3 separate regions of the Homo sapiens genome follow, and all the other regions are linked to region 1. Evidence: fine-mapped expression QTL. A gene starts in region 1. Each other region holds a variant in brackets. All regions are shown on one strand. Distances are from middle to middle.

The links. PIP is the estimated chance that this variant, and not a neighbour inherited with it, causes the effect.
Region 2: its variant is the best candidate, but not a certain one, in a credible set for the expression of MYO9B in lymphoblastoid cells (GTEx, PIP 0.55).
Region 3: its variant is the best candidate, but not a certain one, in a credible set for the expression of MYO9B in whole blood (INTERVAL, PIP 0.58).

What each region holds. Positions count from the first base shown.
Region 1 is chr19:17,071,185-17,079,359 of GRCh38, reverse strand. It overlaps MYO9B (myosin IXB), which reads right to left and starts at 3,583. Exons shown (of 40, transcript NM_004145.4): 1 at 3,486-3,583. HAUS8 (HAUS augmin like complex subunit 8) reads left to right here and starts at 3,908. Exons shown (of 11, transcript NM_033417.2): 1 at 3,908-3,966; 2 at 6,025-6,086. The coding sequence starts at 3,938. RefSeq lists silencers at 3,147-3,441, 3,436-3,785 and an enhancer at 3,966-4,165.
Region 2 is chr19:17,103,542-17,111,716 of GRCh38, reverse strand. All of the region lies in intron 2 of MYO9B (myosin IXB), which reads right to left. Among named protein-coding and RNA genes, the nearest start is that of SNORA118, 15 kb to the right of the region's middle. RefSeq lists enhancers at 811-1,312, 1,276-1,385, 3,418-3,467, 7,529-7,578. The variant T/GT (reference allele first, on the strand shown) is at 4,663.
Region 3 is chr19:17,191,838-17,200,012 of GRCh38, reverse strand. It overlaps MYO9B (myosin IXB), which reads right to left. Exons shown (of 40, transcript NM_004145.4): 21 at 6,951-7,267; 22 at 4,540-5,457; 23 at 2,155-2,221; 24 at 1,705-1,829. Among named protein-coding and RNA genes, the nearest start is that of USE1, 19 kb to the left of the region's middle. The variant A/C (reference allele first, on the strand shown) is at 5,041.

The sequences.
Region 1 (8,175 bases):
TCCCACAGTCCGTTCCTAACGGTTCCTCCTTTTTATCAAGACCCGCTCCCTCCTGATTAAGAACTGACTGGATGGCAGGATTCAGTTCCTGGTCTCTGCCCCTGTTCCCACTCTTAGTGGCAGTTCCTCAGGGGCTCCACAAACACCAAGGACCCACCAAGGCAATGATGGGCCCTAGAGGGGAACCAGGTTTTACTAATGAGCATCACATTTCACCTGGCGGGGGAGGTGATTCTGCCCCCAGGGGACACGTGGCCATGGCTGGAGTCATTTTCAGTTGTTACCCCTTGGAGGGGATGGAATACTACTGGCATCTCATGGGTGACAGCCAGGGACACTATTCCACATTCTACAGTGCACAGCCCCAACTGTCAATGGTGATGCGGGTGAGAAACGGCCCTGGAGATTTGGGTTTCCCCAGTTAAAGGTTACTAAGGATCCTGCATGTTTCTAGAAAGCTCAAGGAACCATCTCTGAAGTCATCACCTGCCTGGGCCTGTTTCTGTATCAGGAAGATAAGAACAAGGACCCTCGCACTGCCGGTTGGCAGAATGAGAGAGCTGGGATGCCCTGTACAGGCCGGGCTTCAAAGGTATCTGCTTGTGCAATCCCTTCCACCCGGAGTGGTTTAACACGTGGTATCTTTCCAGGTTTGACCTGGGGCCAGCCACTACTTCCGAGGAAACTTGCTGGAATCCCCCTTGTCCTAAAGCTTGCATTGGTTGTCCCTAATTCTCCCCCCATAATATCTTGTGGCCCCTCTGTCACCGTACTGATGACCTGATCTGAATTCCATTCTTTTTTTTAATTATTATTATTTTTGAGGGCATCTTGCTCTGTCACCCAGACTGGAGTGCAATGGCGCAATCTTGGCTGGCTGCAAACTCCGCCTCCTGGGTTCAAGCAATTCTCCTGTCTCAGCCTCCAGAGTAGCTGGGACTACAGGCGCACATCACCACGCCGGGCTAATTTTTGTATTTTTAGTGGAGACAGGGTTTCTCCATATTGGTCAGGCTGGTCTTGAACTCCTGACCTTGTGATCCACCCACCTTGGCCTCCCAAAGGGATTACAGGCCTGAGCCACCGCGGCCCAGCTTGAACTCCATTCTTTCTGAAGAGGAAGTGCAAAGTTGTCGGGGGCGGGCATTAGCGTGTCCGTCCTCTGGGTCATAAGGATTCACCTCTGTCCCCAGGAATCTACCAAGTGTCTGGCACAATCAACCCTTGCCTAACTGAAATCTAGGCCCACCCAAGACACACCATTTGGAAGAGATGAGGAATGGGAAGCAGCAAGTTAACAAGTCCATGTGGGGAGAGAATAACGAATCCTACAGCCAAACAGAAAGGGGAGATTCCCACGTCTCTACCTGCTCCACTGAGTCACCAGACTGGACCCGAGGGACGGTACTGCCTCGGGATTTCCAGAAATTTGCAGTTTCCAAAGCTTTGGGAATAGGTGCAATGTGCAAAAGCACCTTCAACACCGCAATTTTCTATTTGGACGATGAAGAAGCGGTTGAAAAAAAATCATTTTTGGATACAAACTGTCGAATGGAAAACGGAATAAAAGTAGGATCATCGCAGCCAGGAATGGAGAGTGGGGGTGCTGTGAGGAGTTCAAGGCCGGGAGCTGGGGGACATGGACTGGAGACAAGACGGTGATGAGAAGAGTTGGGTTTCAAGGTTGAAAAACGCTGATGGAGGTCAATTCATTCATTTTGCAGGTGAGAGGTCAGAAACAGGCACAGAGACTTGACCAAAGCCAGGATCTCCAACACAGTGCTCCCCCCACAAGACCCTGCTTGGCCATTCTCTAGCGGCAGGGAAGAGGCGATTGCAGGGCTGCGGGATCAGAAGATCCCGGTCCTGTTCTGTAGGCCAGTGCAAGCCTACAGTTCAATGTTTGCAGGAGGCATGACTGTGGGCTGTCACTGCATGTCCTGGGGCAAGCCAGGCCAAAGCCACCTTTCCTAAAGGCCAGGATATTCTGGAAGTGAAGGGGGTGCTTATCTTTCTGTGGCCCTCTTTATATTCCAGCTATCCGGGTTCATCTCCTGAATGAGCTATAAACTAAACATAAGCTGGGGTTCCCCAGCCCTTCTGGCAGATCCCAGATAAAGATCCCTACAGTTGGGAAAGGGGAGAAATGAATGCCAATCAAAAGCACCCTGCACAAAGTCCCTGCCAGGGCCACAAGAGCCAGGCCTGTCAGATGTGAATAACTTTCCTGTAGCCCAGGTCACCTCCGGCTGCTCCTGGACACCTTAAGATTCTGAAGACTCCAACATCAAAAAACAAACCGAGTTGGGACTCTCTGGCTGGAAAGTGTCCCCACGGGCTCCCACCTCAGACAAAGAGGCAGAGAAGCCATCCCTTAAAGACCCCTGGCCTCCAGGGTGCCCAGGAAAGAAAGGAGGGCTCGTGGCTGTCGTGCCTCTCCAGGGCTGAGCTCAGAGCAACCGGGGGACAGATTTCCTGTATGTCGTTTTACCCATTTAAGTCCAAGGATGCAGCTCTGCGGAGGTGGCGACAGTCCTGTACATGAGGGTGCATGCACACTCCCTCCTGAAACACAGTTCCGGCCCCACAACCGGCCCTGAGGTCCCTTCCTTGGATCCAGGGAATCCCAGAATCCTGCTAGTCCTGTCTTAAGGGGAGGGTGGTGAAGTTTCCAAGACGAGGACACTGGCACAGAGGGTGTTGGGACTCGTCCCAGGTCACCCAGCTGTTAAGTGTGAAGTCAGGAGGGACACGAATCAAGAGGGGAGGGTGGGGGGACGGAATCTCCAGGGGCTGCATCTCAACATCTATCTGCACGGGGCCACTCTAACCCCTTCCTTCTCTTCCCTCCTCTCCGGGCCCTCCCTCCCTAAGCCTACCCTCAGTTCTTACCGTGACTTCTACTCCGTTTACTTCCCTTCCAGCTCCCATTTCCCCGCTTCCCAATAGCCGGCTGCCGCATCAGTTAGTTCAGAACCCCCCGCATTTACTGAGCGCCCACTGGGGGCCAGGCGCCGCCCTCTTCTCAGACACCCTTCCTTCAATCGCGCGGGCAGACGTCCCCAGATCGGTCTCGCACCCCTTCCCCTCAACCGCACCCCGGCTGTCCCGCCCCTGGCCTTGCCCACTCCCCCAGCCTGGGCCTCTCGTTCCCGCCTCCGTGCCTCCCCACAACGCCGTTTCCTGCGACCCCCCAATTACCACTTAAGCCACGTCCTCTTCAGAGAAGCTGCTCAAAGCCACAAGACTCACCCCCCCCACGCCCTCGAACTCCCTCACCAGCTCCATCCCCATCCACTTTCTCCTTCACCGTCTCGCTTCCACCTCATCCCCAGCAATCTCTCCAAGACCCCCAGGCTCGTTCCCGCCCCCTCGACCCCTGCCGTCGCGTCCCCCATCAGCCCTCAGCTCCGTCCCTCTTCTGCGCAGCCCCCAAAGGCAGGCTTCGAGCTCGAGTCGCCAACCCGAGGCTGCCTGGTACTCACCTGGCCTCGGCCGCCGCGCGCCGCCGGTCCCGGGCCGGGTCCCCGGCCGGACGACCGCCTGCCAGCCCGCCGCTGCTCGAGCCGCTCCGCCCCGCCGCGCCCGCCGCTCCCCCGCGCGCTCCCGCTTCCGGGTTCCGGAGAGGCGGGGACGGGGGCGTGACGCCAGCGCTCCTAGGGGCGGGGCATCGCGAAAAGCCCCGCCCCTACTGTCCGACAGATCAGGTCCCACCCACCGCCCCTACCCACTACCGCCGATGGTGGGCGAGACCAAGTGCGAGGGGAGGACAGGCGAAGCGCGCGTCTGGGGCCGCGCTCTCCACACTTAGCCGGCGCTGCCTCACGCCTCGCAGCCACCCCTCCTGCGTCTCCACAAATGGTCCGACCCGCAAGCAAGGGGGCGGGTCCGGCTTTGAAAAGCCGGCGGGTCGGGCCTTGAGGTGGAAGGCGGGAAAATGGCGGATTCCTCGGGGCGAGGCGCTGGGTGAGTTGGGGCTTCCGCAGGTCTGGATTTGTAGACGCCATAGGGCTGGAGAGGATGGGCAGCGGAGGTGGGGAGTTAGGACCCTCGGGGTGAGTTCGGGTTCGACCCCGCCAGGAACTGCGCGGGCCCCTGAAGACCCCGATGGCGTGCTGCCTCTGCGCATGCTCCGGAGCGCTGACACCCGACCGGCCCTGAGTTCCGCGTCCTCGGCTGGGACGCTGGGCGACCTCCGGCAAGCGGCCTGACCGCCCAGTGCCTCGCTTTCCTCCGCTACGAAATGGGGCCGATGACGCAGCTCAACCTCGTAGGCGTCGCGTGAGGCTGAAACGCGCTTAGATCGGCGCCTGGGTCTTTACTGTGATGTCGCTCTTGGAATTATCGTTATGCAGTGAACAAGTGTTGGGCGACCAAAGTGTCCCCTTTAATCCTCCCACGCGCTTTATTCTGTGCTCCCAGTTTACTGAGGAGATGATGGAGACCCAGGGAGGGGAAGTGACTTGCCTAGGGTAACACACCATGAACAAGAAAGAAGTTGAATACTGACCGAGAGCTAGGCATGAATGATCATGAGGCTATATTTGTCTAGTTTTGTTAATTCTGCCAGTGTTGATTGTGCCAGGTGCAAACTGAAGTGAAATTGGCCAGCAAGAGGAATCACTCCACCGCCCCTTGCCGTAACCGATAGATTGACAGTAGCACCTCCCAGGTACAGGTGCAGTAGCTGAGGCTCGCACAGGTTGTAGGGACCCCCCTCAGGTCGCAGCAGGTTCACCCAGGAGCCCATTCGGTTTGAGGCCACAGCCCTAGCACAGTCCCCAGAGGGAGTCTGTGCTCTTGTCTCTTTCTGGCTGTGAGACTGCCCCGGGGGTGACCTATGTAAAACCTGTGCGTCTTTGTTTTGCAGCGACGAAAAAGCAGGTGTGAACAGTTAGGAAGCTGTCGGGTTAGGAGGAGCCTACGGGCGAGCGCAGCTGCTGGCACCTGGCGAACATTTGCTAAGTTGCCTCTCCCCACGGTGGCCTGGAAGTGTCCCCAACATTGTCTGGGTCTCACTTTGGGGTCCTGGGAGCCTGCTTCAGAGGAGGTGGCCGCAGGGACCAGTGGAGCCGCCTTTGGTGATGGGAGCAGGAGTTACAGTGCCCTGGCCTTGGCCCTGCCCCTCCACTTGCCCATCCACTTGCCCCTCCTGTGTTGCTGGTGTCTGTTCTTGGATCCCTTCTTTTCTCACCAGCTCAGGCTGAAACCCTGAAACCCCTAGTCATCCCAGATTCTCCCTCTCCTGCACCCCCACAGCTGATGAGTCAGCGATTCCTATCTCAGGGTCCCTTCTTTCCTATTACATCAGGCTTCATTCTATTTTTATTTTTATTTTTATTTTTATTTATTTATTTATTGAGACGGAGTCTCACTGTCACCCTGGCTGGAGTGCAATGGCGTGATCTTGGCTCACTGCAACCTGTGCCTCCCGGGTTCAAGCAGTTCTCCTGTGTCAGTCTCCTGAGTAGGAGGGACTACAGGCGCATGCCACCACCCCAGCTCATTTTTGTATTTTTAGTAGAGATGGGGTTTCACCATGTTAGCCAGGATGGTCTCGATCTCCTGACCTCGTGATCCGCCAGCCTCAGCCTCCCAAAGTGAGGTACCTGCTGGGACCACTCCTCGTACCTGCCTGTCAAGATGTTGTTCTTCCCTTTCTGGGAAGGAGCTCTGTGTTTTGTTACCACTGTGTCTCTACTGGAATATAGTAGGTGCATCAATGTCTGGTGAATGAATGAACCCAGGGATAATTTGAGATCTGCTGTGATCTCTTCCACAGAGCTCTCATTACCCTCCTCTCTTCTCAGTTTGGGTGTTCACCTATGCCTTCTTGCCCAGGTGACCAGGGCTGGCTGCTCCTTGTGTCCCTTTTCCTGTTGAGGTGGCCCACCCTCACTGAAATTGTCCTCTGGCAGCCCTTGGACTGGGCTGTCTGAGCTTCAACTAGCAGAGGCACCTCGCCGGCTTCCCTGTGCTTCTTGGGTAGTGAGGTGAACAAGACCTCTCTCTCTTCTCTTGCAGGAAGCCTGCAACCGGCCCCACAAATTCTAGCAGTGCCAAGAAGAAGGATAAAAGAGTTCAAGGTAAGCAGTGTCAGGATCTCTTTAAGGAACATGGTTTTCTTCTTTCATTACGTGCTTTTGGAGGAAGAAAAAAACAGGCCAGAGAAGGGGGCCTGTGGCTTTACTTCCTTGTAGTCACACCTGTGGGGATTCTGGGTCTGGCCATCCCAGCCCTGTGGCGAGGGCTGTGTCAGGAATGGTGGTGGTCATTTTGAGCAGTGGCTTCCCTTGGCAGCCATGGGGGTCATGGGCTGTGTCCGGGACATGTCCCCTGGAAGCGTGGGTGTGGAGACCATGGAGATCATTATCAAAAATCAAACTCTGCCTTTTTTTTTTTTTTTTTTTGAGTTGGGGTCTCACTATGTTACCCAGGCTGGTCTCGAACTCCTAACCTCAAGTGATCCTCCCGCCTCTGCCTCCCAAAGTGTTGGGATTACAGGCATTAACCACTGCCCCCGGCCTAAAATCAAACTCTCAATTCCCACTGCGTGAGCGTGTCAGTCTCATGAGGGGTGCCTGTACATCTGATTTCCACCTATCGGTCTGGGATCACCGTTAACGGCCTCCCCCACGAGCCAAGATCGCACCACTGCACTCCAGCCTGGGCGACAGAGTGAGACTCTGTCTCAAAACAAAACAAAAAAAAAGGAAATGTGGCTGGACACGGTGGCTCACGCCTGTAATCCCAGCAGTTTGAGGCGCCAAGGTGGGTGGATCATGAGGTCAAGAGTTCAAGACCTGCCTGACCAACATGGTGAAACCTCGTTCTACTAAAAATACAAAAATTAGCCGGCCATGGTGGTAGGTGCCTGTAATCCCAGCTACTCAGGAGGCTGAGGCTGGAGAATGGCTTGAACCTGGGAAGTGGAGGTTGCTGTGAGCCGAGATCGCGCCACTGTACTCCAACCTGGGTGGCGAGCGAAACTCCATCTCAAAAAAAAAAAAAAAAAAAAAAAGGAAATGCTCGGCTTGCATGGTAGATTCTAGAGTCCATCATTGGAGGCCAAGACTATGATACAATGAGGTATTTTCTCAGTGTGTGCAGTGTCGCAGGGCCCAATTCAGCGAGCTTAGAGCAGGATTTTATTTCCAAGTGAGGCAAGGTTTGTATGTTTCAGCATTGCTGGGTAAGTTGTCTTTTTATTTCCTGACCACTTATTCCCAAATTCTAAACATCGCATGTTAATCTCGCATATAACAGCTATAATATTTATGAGCTACCTCGTTCTTGGACAAGAATTGTATCCTTCTTCATAATATTGCTTCTGTGGAAAATTCAGCCTGTTTATTTATTTGTATTTATTTTTTTGAGATGGAGTCTCGCTCTGTCACCCAGGCTGGAATGCAGTGGCGTGATCTCGGCTCACTGTAGCTCCCGCCTCCCAGGTTCAAGCGATTCTCTGCCTCAGCCTCCCAAGTAGCTGGGAGCTGCCACCATCCTGGCTCATTTTTGTATTTTTAGTAGAGACAGGGTTTCACCATGTTGGCCAGGCTGGTCTCAAACTTCTGACCTCAAGTGATCCGTCCACCTCGGCCTCCCAAAGTGCTGGGATTACAGGTGTGAGCCACCGCACCTAGCCAGGCTGTTTAAAATAAACAGTTGTATCCTAGTTTTCAGGAAACTTGAAAGTGCTTTTGTTTCCCCACCGTCCAAGGCAGCCCAAGCCTGAGATCCTCCTTGTTGAGCAAAACTGTTTCCTGATGCTACTAGAAAGACCCGGGCTGGATGGTCTTTCTGCTGGGAGCTGGGGATGTCCTTTCTCTCAGCTGTTCGATCACCATCCAGGGTAGACTCTTTTTGTGGCCTGGTTGTCCCTGGGACCCCACCTGGTCCTGGCCTCAGCCCTTGGAGACCTGCACCATGAGAGTGGCCTTCCGATTGTCCACATCTGCCGGGCACCCACCTGCACCCACACTCGCTCTGCAGGCATGGTGCATTCCTACCCTGGGGCTGCCCAGATTGACAGCCCGGCCCTTTGGCTGACTGAAGGATCCTTGTTAACTCTGAGGGTACCTCCTTTCCTCTCAGGGTAGCAGCTGCAACCCCAGTCCCCAACAGAAGAATCAACTGGAACAAAGATATGGTCAAAGTCACAATCTCACTTGGCTG
Region 2 (8,175 bases), 32 kb before region 1:
GGCGACGGTTGCATACCACTGCGAGTGTACTAAATGCCACTGAATTGCACACTTTTGCCTGAGGCCAGGAGTTGGAGACCAGCCTTGGTGACATAACAAAACCCTGTCTCTACAAAAAATAAAAAAATTAGCCAGGGGTGGTGGTGTGCACCTGTATTCTCAGCTGCTTGAGAGGCTGAGGTGGGAGGATCACTTGAGGCCAGGAATTTGAGGCTGCAGATATAATTTAATTTACAGATTTATAAACTGCAGATATAATTTATACATTTATAAAATGCAGATACAATTTAATCTATATATTTATAAACTGTAGATATAAATATAAGGTATCTATTTATAAATAAGTAAATAGGTAAATTATATCTCCATAAGCTCTTAAACAGGAACCTCAACTTCAGAGGCATGAGAGTTGACACACACCTGGTTCCAGAAACTTCTATCTCTGCCACCCTTGCTGAGCAGCTCGTGTGCCTCAGTTTCCTCACATGTCAGGTGGGGGTGGTCAGTCTGCCCACATCAGGATGTGGTGAGGACGTATGAGATGACGCCCCCAATGCTGGGTGGAGGCTGGCATCCAACTGTGTCTTGCCCGACAGACTCAGGGGGAAAGGACGTGGCCCAGGCAGGTGTCCTTGAGGGCAGAGGTCGAAGTGGATAATGGCACTGTGGTCTAGGTGACCTACCCCAGTGCTGACTGTGGGTGGGGGAACAGAGCTAGTGGCCTGGCTGATGGCAGAGGGGCTGGGGGAGTTGGGGGAAACATGAGACTGGGTTTGTAGGGCCCCTAAGGAGGAGCTCAGGACCCGGTCCAGGTGGGTACGAGTCCTAGGTTCCTTTGCCCCAAGAGGGGGGTCTGGGGCAGTGGCACGTTCAGGACCCTTCCTCAGTCCCTCACTGGAATGTCCTGGGCATCGGCACAACTTCGGGTGAGCTTGGCTCCACCAGCTGGGGGCGTCCCTCTGCGCCCTGCAGCCCATCACTGTCACCGTGTCCCACTGTGGGCCGGGCCACAGGGGCTCCATGGAGTCCAGGGACCCTTGGGACAACAGCCTGACAAGCAAGGATCCTTATTTTATTTCTGCTTTCAGAATGAAAACCCCATGCACGCTGCCAGCTGCCAGCTGCACTTGCTACAGTTCAGGACAGATGAAGGGAACCCCAGCCTTTGGCCCCCTGGACTCAGCCTGCTCTCAGAAGGGCACCGAGGCGAGTGCCTGGTGGATCTGAGGCTGTGGGCAAAGGGAGAGGAGCGTGTTCTGGGTGTGCTTTGCGGCGAGACCCCATGGCCGATGCTGTAAGGTGCTCTATCCACAGCCCCTGGGCTGTCGACGGGCGCCTGCACTGGGAGGCTAGAGGCCATGTGGAAGATGGGGAGACTCATGGCTTCTGCAGCCCCTAGACTTGGTGAAAGGTGATGGCAACAGTTAACTGCAGTGGCGGGCAGATCAGCTGATTGGAACCGGCTTTCCACAGTGCTCCCTTCCTGTTTTTTGGTCAGCATTACACAGCGAGGCTGCAACCCTCGCGGGGGGCGGGGGTCAGGGGGTGCATCCAGCGACACTCAAACCTCAAAACAGCTCAACTTCTCCTTTCGGGGAGCTGAGAAAAAATCCCCAATCGATGCAGCGAGTTGTGCTGATCTCCGGCTTTCTGCAGCCCGGGCGAGAGAGGGGAGAGCAGAGAGGCAGCCTGAACGGGGGGCTGGGGCTCAGGCCGGGTTCAAACCCCGGGTTAGGCTTTGGCTCTCTGCGGTGTGGCCTGGGGAATCTACCTGCAGTGGGTTGACTTGTGGCTTCCCAAAAAAGACATGTCTAAGTCCTTACCCCCAGAACCTGTGACTGTGGCTTTATCTGGAAACGGGGTCTTGGCAGATGTCATGAAGGTAAGTATTTTGAGATGAGGTGATCCCATGAGAGAAAGGCAAGGGAGATTGGACACACACAGGGGAGAAGACCAGGTGACGACGGAGGGAGAGGGCAGAGTGATGCGGCCACAAGCCCAGAGCTCCAAGGATGGCTGAAGCCACCAGAACCCGGGAGAGAGGCCTGGGACAGATTCTCCCTCAGAGCCTCCAGAGGGACCCAGCCCTGCCCACACCTTGATTTTCAACTTCTGGCCTCCAGAACTGTGAGAGAATCAACCCCTGCTGTTTGAGGGCTCCCAGCCCGTAATACTTTGTTATAGACACCTCAGGAAACTCACACATCCACGTGTCTCTCTGGGGCTCAGTTTCCTCATCTTTAAAATGGGCAGAGCTGCCGTGAGGGATTAGAGATGATGGAGGAAAATCACGAAGCCCAAACCCTGATACCCAGTGGGCCTGAGGTCTTATTCCTCTTATTAGAAAATGATGGCCGGGCGCAGTGGCTCATGCTTGTAATCCCAGCACTTTGGGAGGCTGAGGTGGGCGGACCACGAGGTCAGGAGATCGAGACCATTCTGGCTAACACGGTGAAACCCCATCTCTACTAAAAATACAAAAAATTAGCTGGGTGTGGTGGTGAGCACCTGTAGTCCCAGCTACTCAGGAGGCTGAGGCAGGAGAATGGCACGAACCCGGGAGGCAGAACTTGCAGTGAGCCGAGATCGCGCCACTGCACTCCAGCCCGGAGACAGAGAGAAACTCTGTTTCAAAATAAATAAATAAATAAATAAATAAATAAATAAATAAATAAATAAATAAAATTAAAAAAAAGATTCTTGGGGCCAGGCATGGTGGCTCACGCCTATAATCCCAGCACTTTGGGAGGCTGAGGAGGGCAGATTACTTGAGGTCAGGAGTTTGAGACCAGCCTGGCCACTATGGTGAAACCCGTCTCTACTAAAAATACAAACATTAGCCGGGCACGGTGGTGGGCGCCTGTAGTCCCAGCTACTCGGGAGGGCTGAGGCAGGAGAATCAAACCCAGGAGGCAGAGGTTCCAGTGAGCCGAGATCGTGCCACTGCACTCCAGCCTGGGCGATAGAGCAAGACTCTATCTCAAAAAAAGAAAAAAAGAAAATGACTCTTAAGTTAGCACAGAACAGAAAGAACTCACAGATAATTTCTAAAAGCTCAGTGGCTGCAATGAACAGTGATTGGGTCTTATGGGAAGAACTCAAAGACAGCTGTTCTATTCCCAGGGGGTGATTTGTCCCCAGGGGACAACGGGAAGCTATTTTGTTAATACCTCTCTAATCAATGAAATGTCTGGGGACACTTCTGGGTGTCACACCTGCGGGGTGGGGAGTGCTCCTGGCATCTGGTGGGTGGAGGCCAGGGATGCTGCTCAATGTCCTTCAATGCACAGGATGACTCCCTCCCCAGAGAACGATCCGGCCCTGAATGTCAGCAGAGCCAGGTTGAGAAATCCAGCTCTCAGTGAAGACAATCACATCCCTTTGCAAACAGTCGCCCCAGGAAGCACGTTTATTGCCATGACGTGGATTTGGCTCAAGCCTGTTTTGGAAGCCGGCGTGGGCACCACCCTCGAGCGGCTTAGAACCGCTGGAGAAAACTGGCCTCGCCAGCCCCCGCTGCTGAGGCCCCAAGCAGGTTGGCCTGGCAGGACCGGGGGTCTGACTCACAGAGGGTGACTAATGGCTGTTGAAGGCATACTGGAGACTGTGCAGGCGTGGAGGCTGGAGGGAGCTTTGCTGGCATCCGGGGAGGAACTACCGGTCCCCAGGACAATCGCGGATCTGGGGCAGCCCTCAAGGACCCAGGCACAAGATGTCACCAAGTGGGACTTGCCAGGGGCCAGGTAGGACTTGAAGCAGACCAGGTGGGGCTGTATGGGGGATGCTGTGGGCTGACTTGAGCCCCCCGCCCCCAAAATTATATCCACATCCTCACCCCCAGAAACTGTGTATGTGACCTTATTTGGAAATAGGGTCTTTGCAAATGCAATTAGGTAGGATGAGGTCATGCCGGGGTAGGATGGGCCCTACATCCCATGAGTGGTGTCCTTGTTATAAGAAAGCCACGTGAAGACATGGACACACAGGAAGAACGCCCCTGACGACAGAGGCAGAGACTGATGTGACGTGGCCACAGGCCAGGGCACATCTGCAGCCACCAGAGAAGCTGAAGAGGCCTGAAGCATCCTCCCCCAGAGCCGGGAGGGAGTGCGGCCCCGTGGACACCTTGATTTCAGACTTCTGGCCTCCAGGACCATGAGAGCCTTAATCCCTGTTGTTGGAGACTCCCTTGCCCCTAACACTTAGCAACAGGAAACTTGTCCACGCCCTGGAGGGTCCTAGTGAGATGGCGCTGTGGAGGCAGCAACGTGGTGGGGAGGACATGGACCCTGAACTGAGACCTAGGTGGCAATCCTGCCTCCTGGCCGTGCCACTTTGAGACCCTGGGGCTGGGCGTGTCATTTCTGCGGGGCTCAGGCATTTACCCACCTGCCTAGTCCCATTTGGCAAAATGTCTGACATGGTAAATGTTGGATCTACCCTCTCATTCATTCACCTACTAAATTTTTTTTGTTATTTTTTTGAGACAGGGTCTTGCTCTGTCACCCAGGCTGGAGTGCAGTGTGTGATCACAGCTCACTGCAGTCTTGAACTTCTGGGCTCAAGCAATCCTCCCACTTCAAGCTCCTGAGAGCTGAGACCACAGGCATGCACTGCCATGCCTGGCTAATTTTTTATTTTTATTTTTAATTTTGAGACAGA[T/GT]TTCGCTCTTGTTGCCCAGGCTGGAGTGCAATGGTGCGATATTGGCTCACTGCAACCTCCACCTCCCAAGTTCAAGCCATTCTCCTGCCTCAGCCTCCGAAGTACCTGGGATTATAGGCGCTCGCCACCACACCTGGCTAATTTTTGTATTTTTAGTAGAGACGGGGTTTCACCATGTTTGCCAGGCTGGTCTCGAACTCTTGACCTCAGGTGATCCACCTGCCTTGGCCTCCCAAAGTGTTGGGATTACAGGCATGAGCCACTGCACCCAGCCTAGTTTTTAAACTTTTTGGTAGAGATGGGGTCTTGCAATGTTACCCAGGCTGGTCTGGAATTCCTAGGCTCACGCAATCCTCCTGACTCAGGACTCAGCCTCCTGACTCTGGGATTACAGGTGTGTGCCACACATGCTGAATTTTCAAGATCACTGTTTTATCTCGGGTGTGGATGCCAGGCACTGATGTTTTGGCCTGGAGAGCCGTTGAGCCCCCTGGCCACCTGCTGGGAGGACACTGGGGCCACTGGCAGTTTCACTGTGGCTGAGTCTCAGAGCTGGGATGACGCCAGGGCGGCCTCGGGAGACCAGAGCTGGGTTGCATCTACCTCTGCTCAGAACCTCTATAGCTCCTGTGTCACCCAGAGTCTTCCCCGAGTTCTACCTGGGGAGAATTTTGTGTTGACTTTGGCCACCACATAGCCCAGCACCTATATCATAGCCTGCCACACAGCAAATGCTCACACAGCAATGAACGGGCGGTCTGGGTATATAATGTAATGCACACAAGACAAGCCATATTAAAAACAGCTGAGGTGGGAGGATCACTGGAAGCCAGGAGTTCGAGACCAGCCTGGAGAACATAGTAAGACTGTGTCTCTACAGAAAATTTAAAAATTAGCCGGGCATGGTGGTGCACACCTGGAATTCCAGCTACTTGGGTGGGAGGATCGCTTGAGCCCAGAAGTTCTCGAGGCTGCGGTGAGTTATGATTGTGCCACTGCACTCCATTCTAGGTAACGGAGAGAGACCCTGACAAGAAAGGAATAGAGGAGAGGCGAGGAGAGGGGAGGGGAGAGGAGGGGAGGGGAGGGGATGGGAAAGGAAAGAAAATGGACATTCTATGGTGAAATTGCTCAGCAGTTTTATTAAAAGCTGATGTAAACAATGACAATGAATCTCTGTGTTACTTGCACAGGAGAAAACAGGAATAGGCTACATATGTCGGACCAGGGCTAAGTTGTATGACCCCAATTAATGTCTTACTGATGACCTCAGAGAGGAAGAGGAACTGAAATGTATTCCTAGGCACTGCTTAGATGTGATTTCAGTGAATTTGCATGGCAGCCCTCAGCTTGTGGGGACTAACAAGAGGCGAGAGGTCAAGGCTCCAGAAAGGGTGGGGTCTGACCCTGCCCCCAACTCCCTCTCTCCACTGAGGGGGCTCTCAGGATCCTACGTGTGAAGAAACTGACACATTCATATAATGAGCTACAATTCAGCAAAAGAAATGAGCTCTCAAGCCACGAAAAGACATGGAGGAATCTCCTCTCCCCTTTTTTTGGGGGACAGGGTCTCGCTCTGTCACCTAGGCTGGAGTGCAGTGGCCAGACGTTGGCTCACTGCAGCCTCAACCTCCCGGGCTCAAGCGATTCTCCTGCCTCAGACTCCCACGTAGGGGGGACCACAGGCAAACACCACCACACCTGGCTAATTTTTTTTTTTTTTTTTTTTTTTTTTGGTAGAGACAGGGTCTTGTTATGTTGCCCAGGCTGATCTGGAACTCCTGGGCTCAAGTGATCCTCCTGCCTCGGCCTCCCAGTGCACTGGGATTATGTAAGCCACCGTGCCCAACTGACATGCAGGAACCTTAAATGCTGGTTGTGAAGTGGAAGAAGCCAGTCTGAAAAGCCTGCAACACTGGGACTCCAACTACAGACAGCCTGGAAAAGACAGAACTGTGGAGGCAGTGAGAAGAGCTGTGGCTGCCAAAGGTCATGGAGGGATGAACAGGGGGAGCATGGAGGAATTTTAGGGCAGTGACACCACTCTGTGACACTCCAACGGCAGACACATTCATTATACTTTTGTCCAAACTCAAAGAATGTGCAACACCAAGAACCCTAATGGAAACTATGGCTGTTAGTAACAGTACCAACGTAGAGTTGAGTCAGGTGCAACCAACACACCACACGAATGCAAAATATAAATAATGTGAGAACCTGGGCGTGGGAGGGGTACATGGGAACTCTCTGCACTATCTGCTCGGTATTTTTATAAACCTAAAACTGCTCTAAAACAACCAATCTGTTTTTTTGTTTTTTTTTTAAGCGGAGCTGGGTACAGTGGTTCACGCCTATAATCCCAGCATTTTGGGAGGCCAAGGTGGGAGGATCATTGGCATCCAGGAGTTCGAGACCAGCCTGGGGAATACAGTGAGACCCCCATCTCTACAAAAAATAAAATAAAAATGAAAAAAAGGCAGATCCCACACCCAGAGGTGCAGACCCCTGAGGCCACACGCTGCCCCTGGCCCTCACCAGGTGGCGATGGTTGCGTTGTTCTGAGACATGTGGATGCACCTTGTCCTACAATCCCTGCAATGATGGGTGCTGTGTGGTCACCTCTGTAGCCCTGTGGCCACAAGACTCACCCACAGTGGCACATCGAGGGCTCCTGTGGGGTTTGGCTGATCAGGGCAATGAACAGTGGGCAGAGGGCATGAGGCATAAGAGCCTGGGTTGGTCCCTTCTCTGCTGCCTCTACAGTGAAACTAGGCAGCCCCCTCCCCGACAATGCTTCGCCATCCCCTTAACCCCCAGGCCTGCCGTACGCCTTGCTGGCTTCCTTCCACCCTGCTGGTCCCCCTAGAAATGTCCCGTTGTGAAGCACTCCTCAAACTGGTTTGAATACACCAGCCTTTTCTTTCAGGCACCTTGAGAATGAATGGCCATGTTCTGGAAGCCAAATGTGTATTAACTGTGACTATTTTTTTTTTTTTTTTGAGATGGAGTTTCGCTCTGTCACCCAGGCTGGAGTGCAGTGAAGCGATCTTGGCTCACTGCAACCTCCACCTACCGGGTTCAAGCGATTCTCCTGCCTCAGCCTCCCGAGTAGCTGGGATTACAGGCACACACCATCATGCCTGGCTAATTTTTATATTTTTAGTAGAAACGAGGTTTCATCATGTTGGCCAGGCTGGTCTCAAAGTCCTGACCTCCCGTGATCCACCTGCCTCAGCCTCCCAAAGTGTTGGGATTACAGGTGTGAGCCACCGCGCCCAGTGACTTATTTTCTGTATTTCTGATGCTCTGACATCTGGGGCCTGGCTGACCCCAGGGAGACGGCCCTTCCCAATTCCTAGATTGATTCTAGCCAGTTCCTAGAGATGGTTTGGGACTTGCCTTCCATATGCAAACCAACCAGTCCAGAGCCTACACCCCAGCCACCTCCTCTCTGGGACTCTCACACTCCAGCCCACTATCCCCTGCCCTCATCACCCCAGGCCCTGGCACCTG
Region 3 (8,175 bases), 120 kb before region 1:
GTAGTCCCAGCTACTTGGGAGGTTGAGGCAGGAGAATTGCTTGAACCCAGGAGGTGGAGGTTGCAGGTTGCAGTGAGCTGAGATCGCACCATTGCACTCCAGCCTGGGTGACAGAGTGAGACTCTGTCTCAAAAAAAAAAACAAAAAACAAAAACAAAAATGGATCTGGCTGGGTATGGTGGCTCACGCCTATGTAATCTCAGCACTTTGGCAGGCTGAGGTGGGTGGATCAGCTGAGCCCAGGAGTTTGAGACCAGGCTGGGCAACATAGCGAAACCCCTTCTGTACCAAAAATACAAAAAAAAAAAAAAAGAAAAAAAAAGAAAAAAAAATTAGCTGGGCATGGTGGTGCACACCTGTACTCCCAGCTACTTGGGAGGCTGAGGCAGGAGAATCGCTTGAGCCTGAGAGGTGGAGGCTGCAGTGAGCGGAGATTGAGCCATTGCACTCCAGACTGCCAGACTGGGCAACAGAGCAAGATTCTGTCTCAAAAAAAAAACAAACAAAAAAACAACACAGGATTATCTTATAAAGAGCAATAGCCCTTTCTTTGTACTGGCAGGGGAGTTATGTGAAGAAAGAAGGATACCAAACAGAAGCCACAGGGGGACTCCATTTTCTTTTCTTTTTGTTCCAGTTGGGGTGTGACTCAGTCTGGAGTGCAGTGGTGTGATCATAGCTCGCTACAGCCTCAAACTCCTGGCCTCACGAGCATGATCCTCTCACCTCAGCCTCCTGAGTTGTTGGGATTATAGGTACAAGCCATGCGCCTAGCTCATTATCTTTTTAAGTTAAAAAAAAAGTTTTTTTGAGACAGAGTGTCATTCTCTTGCCCAGGCTGGAGTGCAGTGGTATGATCACAGTTCACTGCAGGCTTGATCTCTTGGCCTCAAGGGATCCTCCTGTTTCAGCCTCCTGAGTAGCTGGGACTACAGGCATGCACCGCCCTGCCTGGCTAATTTTTGAAATTTTTTTGCAGAGACAAGATTTTGCCACGCTGCCCAGGCTGATCTTGAACTCCTGGCTTCAAGTGATCATCCCACCTTGGCCTCCCAAAGTGTTGAGATTACAGGCGTGACCTACTGCATCCATTCAGCCACGTGTCCTTTTAAGGGACAGAAGACAGAAGACACAGACACTGAGGGGAAGGCCAAGTGCCGATAGAGACAGAGATTAGAGTGATGGAGCCACAAGCCAAGGAACACCTGGAGCCCCCAAAAGCCAGAAGAGGCAGGAAGGATCCTGCCCTAGAGGCTTTTTTTTTTTTTTTTTTTTTTTGAGACGGAGTCTCCCTCTGTCACCCAGGCTGGAGTGCAGTGGCATGATCTCAGCTCACTGCAACCTCCACCTCCCGAGTTCAAGCGATTCTCCTGCCTCAGCCTCCCGAGTGGCTGGGATTATAGGTGCCTGCCATCATGCCCAACTAATTTTTGTATTTTTAGTAGAGATGGGGTTTCACCATGTTGGCCTGGTTGGTCTCCAACTCCTGACCTCAAGTGATCCACCCGTCTCGGCATCCCAAAGTGCTGGGATTATAGGCGTGAGCCACTGCCTGGCCTCCCCATTCAGTTTCTACTGAGCAAATGCCTTTGCGAACGTGCTTTGTAAACGTGATTGGTTTAGGAGGCCACACTGCTGCGAGGCCCTGGCAGGGACCCCGGGCATCCTCTGGTGGCCTGAGTTTCCCCCAAGCCCAATACTTACTTAGAGTCGACCTGAGAGCCCGGGGACAGCCCTGCGTCTGGGAGGGAGGATGCGTCGCCTGGCTTCTTCTTCTGGACAGCTGGCTTTTTCGCACTTCGCTCTCCGTCCGTGGTTTCTGCTGCAGGCTGCAAGACGGTGCAGTGGGGGGCTGCTAAGGAAAGGCTGGCAGTCCTGTGCTAGATGGGGAAGCCCCTGCAGGCATTTACACTCCATCCACCGACCTCACTTCCTGCTTTTTTTTTTTTTGAAACGGAGTCTCACTCTAGTTGCCCAGGCTGGAGTGCAGTGGCCTGGTCTCGCGAGGCTCACTACAACCTCTACCCTGCCACTGCGTTCAAGCGATTCTCTCGCCTCAGCCTCCTGAGTAGCTGGGGTTACAGGCAAGCGCCACCACGCCTGGCTGATTTTTGTATTTTTAGTGGAGACGGGGTTTTGCCGTGTTGTTGTTACCTGAGCCTTGGCCAGGGACGGGAGGAGCTTGGAGACGTCGCTCGTGGAGAAGGAGGTGCGCCTCTCCCTGCGAGATCACAGAAACATGGCTTTTACTGACTAGAGTGAGTCAGTGGCATTTTCTTGTCTTAGTGGTTCTTGGGTTCTCACTTGGGCAGTTCTGCCCCTGCCAGGGGACACTTGGCAATGTCTAGAGACAGTTTTGGTTGTCACCACTTGGGTGGGGGGAAAGGAGTGGGTGGGTACTTCTGGCCTCTGGTGAGTGGAGGGCAGGGATGCTACTCAATACCCTACAGAGAATGGTCTCCACCCCAGAGAGTGAGCCAGCCCCAGATGTTGAGTGTGGAGGGTAGGAAACCTTGCCTTAGCCCAAGAGACCCTGCCTGCCTGCCCATCTATCTATCTATGTATCTATCTATCTATCTATCTATCTATCTATCTATCTATCTATCATCTATCTATCCATCCATCCATCCTTCTACTCATTGACTCATTGTCTCTATCTTCCACCCATCCATCCTCTTTATCTGCCTTCCATCCATCTCTTCATCTGTCATCTCTATCTATCTTTTTTTTTTTTTTAGACGGAGTTTTGCTCTTGTTGCCCAGGCTGGAGTGCAATGGTGTGATCTCGGCTCACTGCAACCTCTGCCTCCCAGGTTCAAGTGATTCTCCTGCCTCAGCCTCCCGAGTAGCTGGGATTAGAGGCATGCGCCAACACATCCAGCTAATTTTTGGTATTTTTAGTAGAGACGGGGTTTCGCCACGTTGGCCAGGATGGTCTCAAACTCCTGACCTCAGGTGATCCACCCGCCTCAGCCTCTCAAAGTGTTGGGATTATAGGTGTGAGCCCCCGAACCCGGCTCTACCTATCTTCTACCCATCCGTCCCTCCATCATCTCTATCTTCCTCCCATCCATAATCTACCTATCATCTATCCATCCCTCCATCCATCAACTCTATGTTCCTTCCATCTCTCCATCTCTATCTTCCAGCCATCCACCCATCCTTCTGTCTGTCCATCCATCCATCCATCCACCCACCCAGCCATCCATCATCTCTACCTATCTTCCATCCCTCCATTCATTGTCTCTACCTACCTATCTTCCTTCCATCCATCTATCGTCGGCATCTATCTTCCTTCTATCCATAATCTCTACTTTTTTTTTTTTTTTGAGACGGAGTCTCATCTCTGTCATCCAGGCTGGAGTGCAGTGACTTGATCTCGGCTCACTGCAACCTCTGCCTCCCAGGTTCAAGCGATTCTCCTGTCTCAGCCTCCCAAGTAGCTGGGATTACAAGCATGCGCCACCACGCCCAGCTAATTTTTGTATTTTTAGTAGAGACAGGGTTTCACTATGTTGGCCAGGCTGGTCTCGAACTCCTCTCAAACTCTTGGCCTCCCAAAATGCTGGGATTACAGGCATGAGCCATCGCGCCCAGCCTAATTTCTACCCATCTTCTATCCATCCATCTCCCCATCATCTGTATCATCCATCCATCCATGCCTCTATCCATCATTACTACCTGTCTTCTATCTATCCATCCCTTCATCCATCATGTGTATCTTCCATCCATCCATCATCTATATCTGTCTTCCATTCATCACCTCTATCATTTTCCATCCATCCATCCCTCCATCATCTCTATCTTCCTTCCATCCATCCTTCCATCATCTCTATCTTCCATCCATCCACCCACCCACCCACCCACCCACACATCCTTCCCTCTCTCTCTCTCTCCCTCCCTCCCTCCATCCATCATCTATCGATAATACTCCTGGCATGTGGTAAGTGGAGGCCAGGGATGCTGCTCAACATCTTATGATACACAGGACAGCCCCCACCGCAGAGAATGATCTGGCCCCCAATACGAGCAGTGGGAGGCTGAGCAGGCCTGCTGCAGGGAAGGCCTGTCTCCTCCCTGATTTCTTTCCTTTGGTCCTGCAGGCCCTCTGGAAGAGGGAGCTGGAGATTCCAAGTCACTGACACTTGGCTTACTAAGGCTCAGGCAGAGCAAGCCCCTGCTCCTTTAACCCCGAGGAGTGCAGTTAGTCCTGTTCACCAATTAGAAACCAAGGCCCAAGATTTCTGGGCAGCAGGGACCTTGACCTGAGGAGCCACCTCTCTCAAGGCCGGGGCCTTTCTGTGTGAGCACAGCTCCTTCTGGGGACCCCTCAAGGCTCCAGGTCCCAGCCTGGGCCCTGGCTGGCTGCCTTGTCTTCACTTGGTCTTTAGCATGTCCTGCTCGTCCTCCTCCCTCAGGCCTCCCGCACACCCACTGGGCATGATTACACATGTGTTTCCAGGATGTGTGGCACTGCCCCTGGCCTTGCCCACCTGGCCTGGACCCTGGTGCTCAGACAAAAGAGGGTGTGGGGCTTACTCTGTGGGCGTGAGGGCGGCCCCTGTGGCCCGGTGTCTGTCGCTGAGGTCCAGGGACTGGCTGAGCATGGCACTAGGGCTGGCGGCGGCCACCAGCTTCTTGCCCCGCCACAGTTCCACGGCGCTGGCCAGCCGCTCGGCGTCCAGGTACCGCTGGATCTGCGTGGAGCCTCCGGGGCTGTCGGGCTTTTCCTGAACCCTTGGGCTGCCACATGGTTTGCTCTTGTCCTCGGGGGTCTCGGGGGCGCTGCCAGGGGCCGGTGGGCTGACCCTGCTGTCCAGGGCCAGGCTGGTCGGCCGCTCCAACTGGCCAGGCCTGGGGCTCCCACTGGGCAGCGTCTTCTCAGTTTCTTCAGAGACCTTGCCAACTGCCATGGCCTGGGGTTGCTCTGTGGGCTGCTTTTGAGATGTGTTCTCAGCCTCCGTCTCTACGACTAGAAGGGTTTCATCTTCTCTGCTCTCCTTTTTGTCTTCCAGGAGACTCACCCCTTGCTCCTGGGTG[A/C]CCCTTCTGGAAGGTTCTCTGAGGGCACTCTCCTCCTTGCAGGACTGGATGTGTTTGTTCTGGAACTTGACGTGCTCCAGCCCTCTTTGCCGACGCGACTCACGCTTCTCCCGGCTGCTGGGGACTTTCTCGTGACTTTCAGCCGCCACGGTTTTCTGGGGTGGGAGAGTCTTCTCTGGGCTTGGGGCCTCCTTCTCAGGTGAGGAGTGCTCTAGGGGGGACCTGTCACTTGGCTGCACCTCAGGCTCCGATGCCAGGTGCCCGCCATCCTCCGCTGGCTCCGGCCCCTGCTCAGCTACCTGCTGCCCTCCAGCCGCCTGACCCTGTCCGCCCTCCTCAGCACCTGCTCTTGCGGCTTCCAGGGCTTCCCTCTCCTTCTCTTCTGCCTTCTGCTTCTCCGAGATCATCTGGCTGAAGCTGGAGTGAGGAAAAAGCAGACAGCTGGTTCAGAAACAAACACTCCCTCCACCTCCCACTGAGTTCCGATGGGACCCCCAGCCTGCGGGCTGCAGACGGGGCTTCGCCTGTGCCCAGTGGCCCTGAGAGATGCTTCTGGAAAGCAGGAATCTCCTCGATCAGGAAAGGAGGCTGAGGGTGGTGCCCCCTCAGTGTCACAGATACCCCTGCCCTGCGTCTGCCTGGCTGCCTTGTTAGGGGAGAGGACCCTTGTTGGGGCTGTGGTGGGTGGGTTCTATTAAGAAGCCTCAAACTCCTTTGGGGTCCACTGTGGGCTTTCCCTTGGGTCTTTTTCTAGGAGGCTTTTTGTTTTGCTTTTATTTTATTTTATTTTATTTTATTTTTGAGACAGAGTCTCGCTCTGTTGTCCAGGCTGGAATGCAGTGGCACGATCTTGGCTTGCTGCGACCTCTGCCTCCCGGGTTCAAGTGATTCTTGTGTCTCAGCCTCCCTAGTAACTGAGATTATAGACATGCACCACCAAGCCCGGCAAATTTTTGTATTTTTCGTAAGATGGGGTTTTGCCATGTTGGCTAGGCTGGTCTCCAACTCCTGGCCTCATGTGATCTGCCTGCCTTGGCCTCCCAAAGTGCTGGCCTTACAGGTGTGAGCCACTATGCCCAGCCTGTTTTGCTTTTAGAGACAGTGTCTGGCTCTGTCACTTAGGCTGGAGTGCAGTGGTGTGATCATAGCTCACTGCAGCCTCGACATCCCAGGCCCAGGTGATCCTCCCACCTCAGCTTCCTGAATAGCTGGGACTACAGGTGTGTACCACCACACCTGGCTAAGTCTTTAATTTTGTGTAGAGATGGCATCTTGCTATATTGGCCAGGCTGGTCTTGAACTCCTGTGCTCAAGCGATCTTCCCATCTAGGCCTCCCAAAGTGTTGGGATTACAGGCATGAGCCATTGCACCTGGCCTAGGAGGCTTTTGCATGTGTGGGTAGGGCCTGCTCCGGGAGCTGGGACCTGACTTGTGGCAGAGCTGGGTCTGTGTGGGCAGGGGAGAGGTGAACAGGGTGCCTAGGTCGGGGAGGGGCTGGGCTCGGAGCTGTGGGTGCTGGGACGGGAGCTGCTGATATCCTCCTGGGGGCTTCTCTGTGCCCGGTGGATGCCCCAGCTCCATGTGAGTGTTGGGCTGGTCCAGGCAGCCCCTCCAACCCTGAATCCAGGTGTTCCCTGACCGATCCAGGTACAGGGGAGTCCCTGGGCAGAGAATGGGTGCAGCCAATGGCAAAGCAGGGCTTTGTCCCTGAGTGCTGCCTGCCAGCCTTGGAGCACTTCTCTGCAGCCCATGAGTGCCTAGGCATCTGGTTTCCCACCAGCCTTTCCCTGTGTCCAGAATGACATCCCCTTAGTGCCACAGGCCAGATGGTATATCACGGGCAGCAATTTGGTGAGTGACCTTTTTGGCTTCTGGAATATTCCGAGGAGCGTGGCCCGGCTCTGCTCACCTCTTGCGCTGCAGGTGCCCCCGACACAGGCTCTGCAGGCGGATGATGCTCTGTTTCTGGTGCCGGTAGAGCTTCCGCTGCCAGTAGCCCCTCCATGAGGCCTGGAGGTACACGGCAGCCTGCGTCCTCTCCAGCGCCCTCCGGACCCGGTAGGACCGCCAGCAGGCCTGGATGGTGACGGCGGCCCGCTTCATCTGCAGGAAGTGCCGACGCTCCAGCACCATCCGGAACCAGCTCTGCAGCAGCAGGATTTTCCGCACCACCTCCCGGTGCAGCGTCTCCTGCAGGGCTTGCCGCTCCGTCTCCTTCAGGAAGACCTGGTGGGCACGGGGTCAGGTGGGGTCAGCTGCACTGCCCCTGACACCATCTCTGTGCCTGGGAGGTCTGCATAGCCCACTCCAGAGTGAGACCTAGGCTGGTGTGCTGACCAACCAGGGCTTTATTTATTTATTTATTTATTATTTTTTTGAGATGGAGTCTCACTCTGTCGCCCAGGCTGGAGTGCAGTGGCATGATCTCGGCTCACTGCAACCTCCGCCTACTGGGTTGAAGTGATTCTCCTGCCTCAGCCTCCCGAGTAGCTGGGACTACAGGTGCCCATCACCAGGCCTGGCTAATTTTTGTATTTTTAGTACAGACAGGGTTTCACCATGTTGGCCAGGCTGGTCTCGAACTCCCAACCTCAAGTGATCTGCCCGCCTTGGCCTCCCAAAAATGCTGGGATTACAGGCATGAGCCACTGCACCTGGCTGTGGCCCCCCCTTTTTTTTTTTTTTTTTGAGATGGAGTCTCACCAGGCTGGAGTGCAGTGGCCCGATCTCAGCTCACTGCAACCTCCGCCTCCCGGTTTCAAGCGATTCTTCTGCCTAAGCCTCCCGAGTAGCTGGGACTACAGGTGTGTGCCTGTAATAAAACCCTGTCTCTACTAAAAATACAAAAATTAGTCAGGTGTGGTGGCGGGCACCTGTAATCCCAGCTGCTTGGAGGCTGAGGCAGGAGAACCAGTTGAACCTGGGAGACGGAGGTTGCAGTGAGCTGAGATCACACCACCTGTCTGGGCAACAGAGCAAGACTCTGTCTCAAAAATAAAAACAAAAAAGAAAAAAGAAATGAGATCTCGCTCGGTCACCCAGGCTGAAGTGCAGTGGTGCAATCAGGGCTCACTGCAGTCTCAAACTCCTGCCTCAGCCTGCCAAGCAGTTGAGACCACAGGTGCATGCCACCA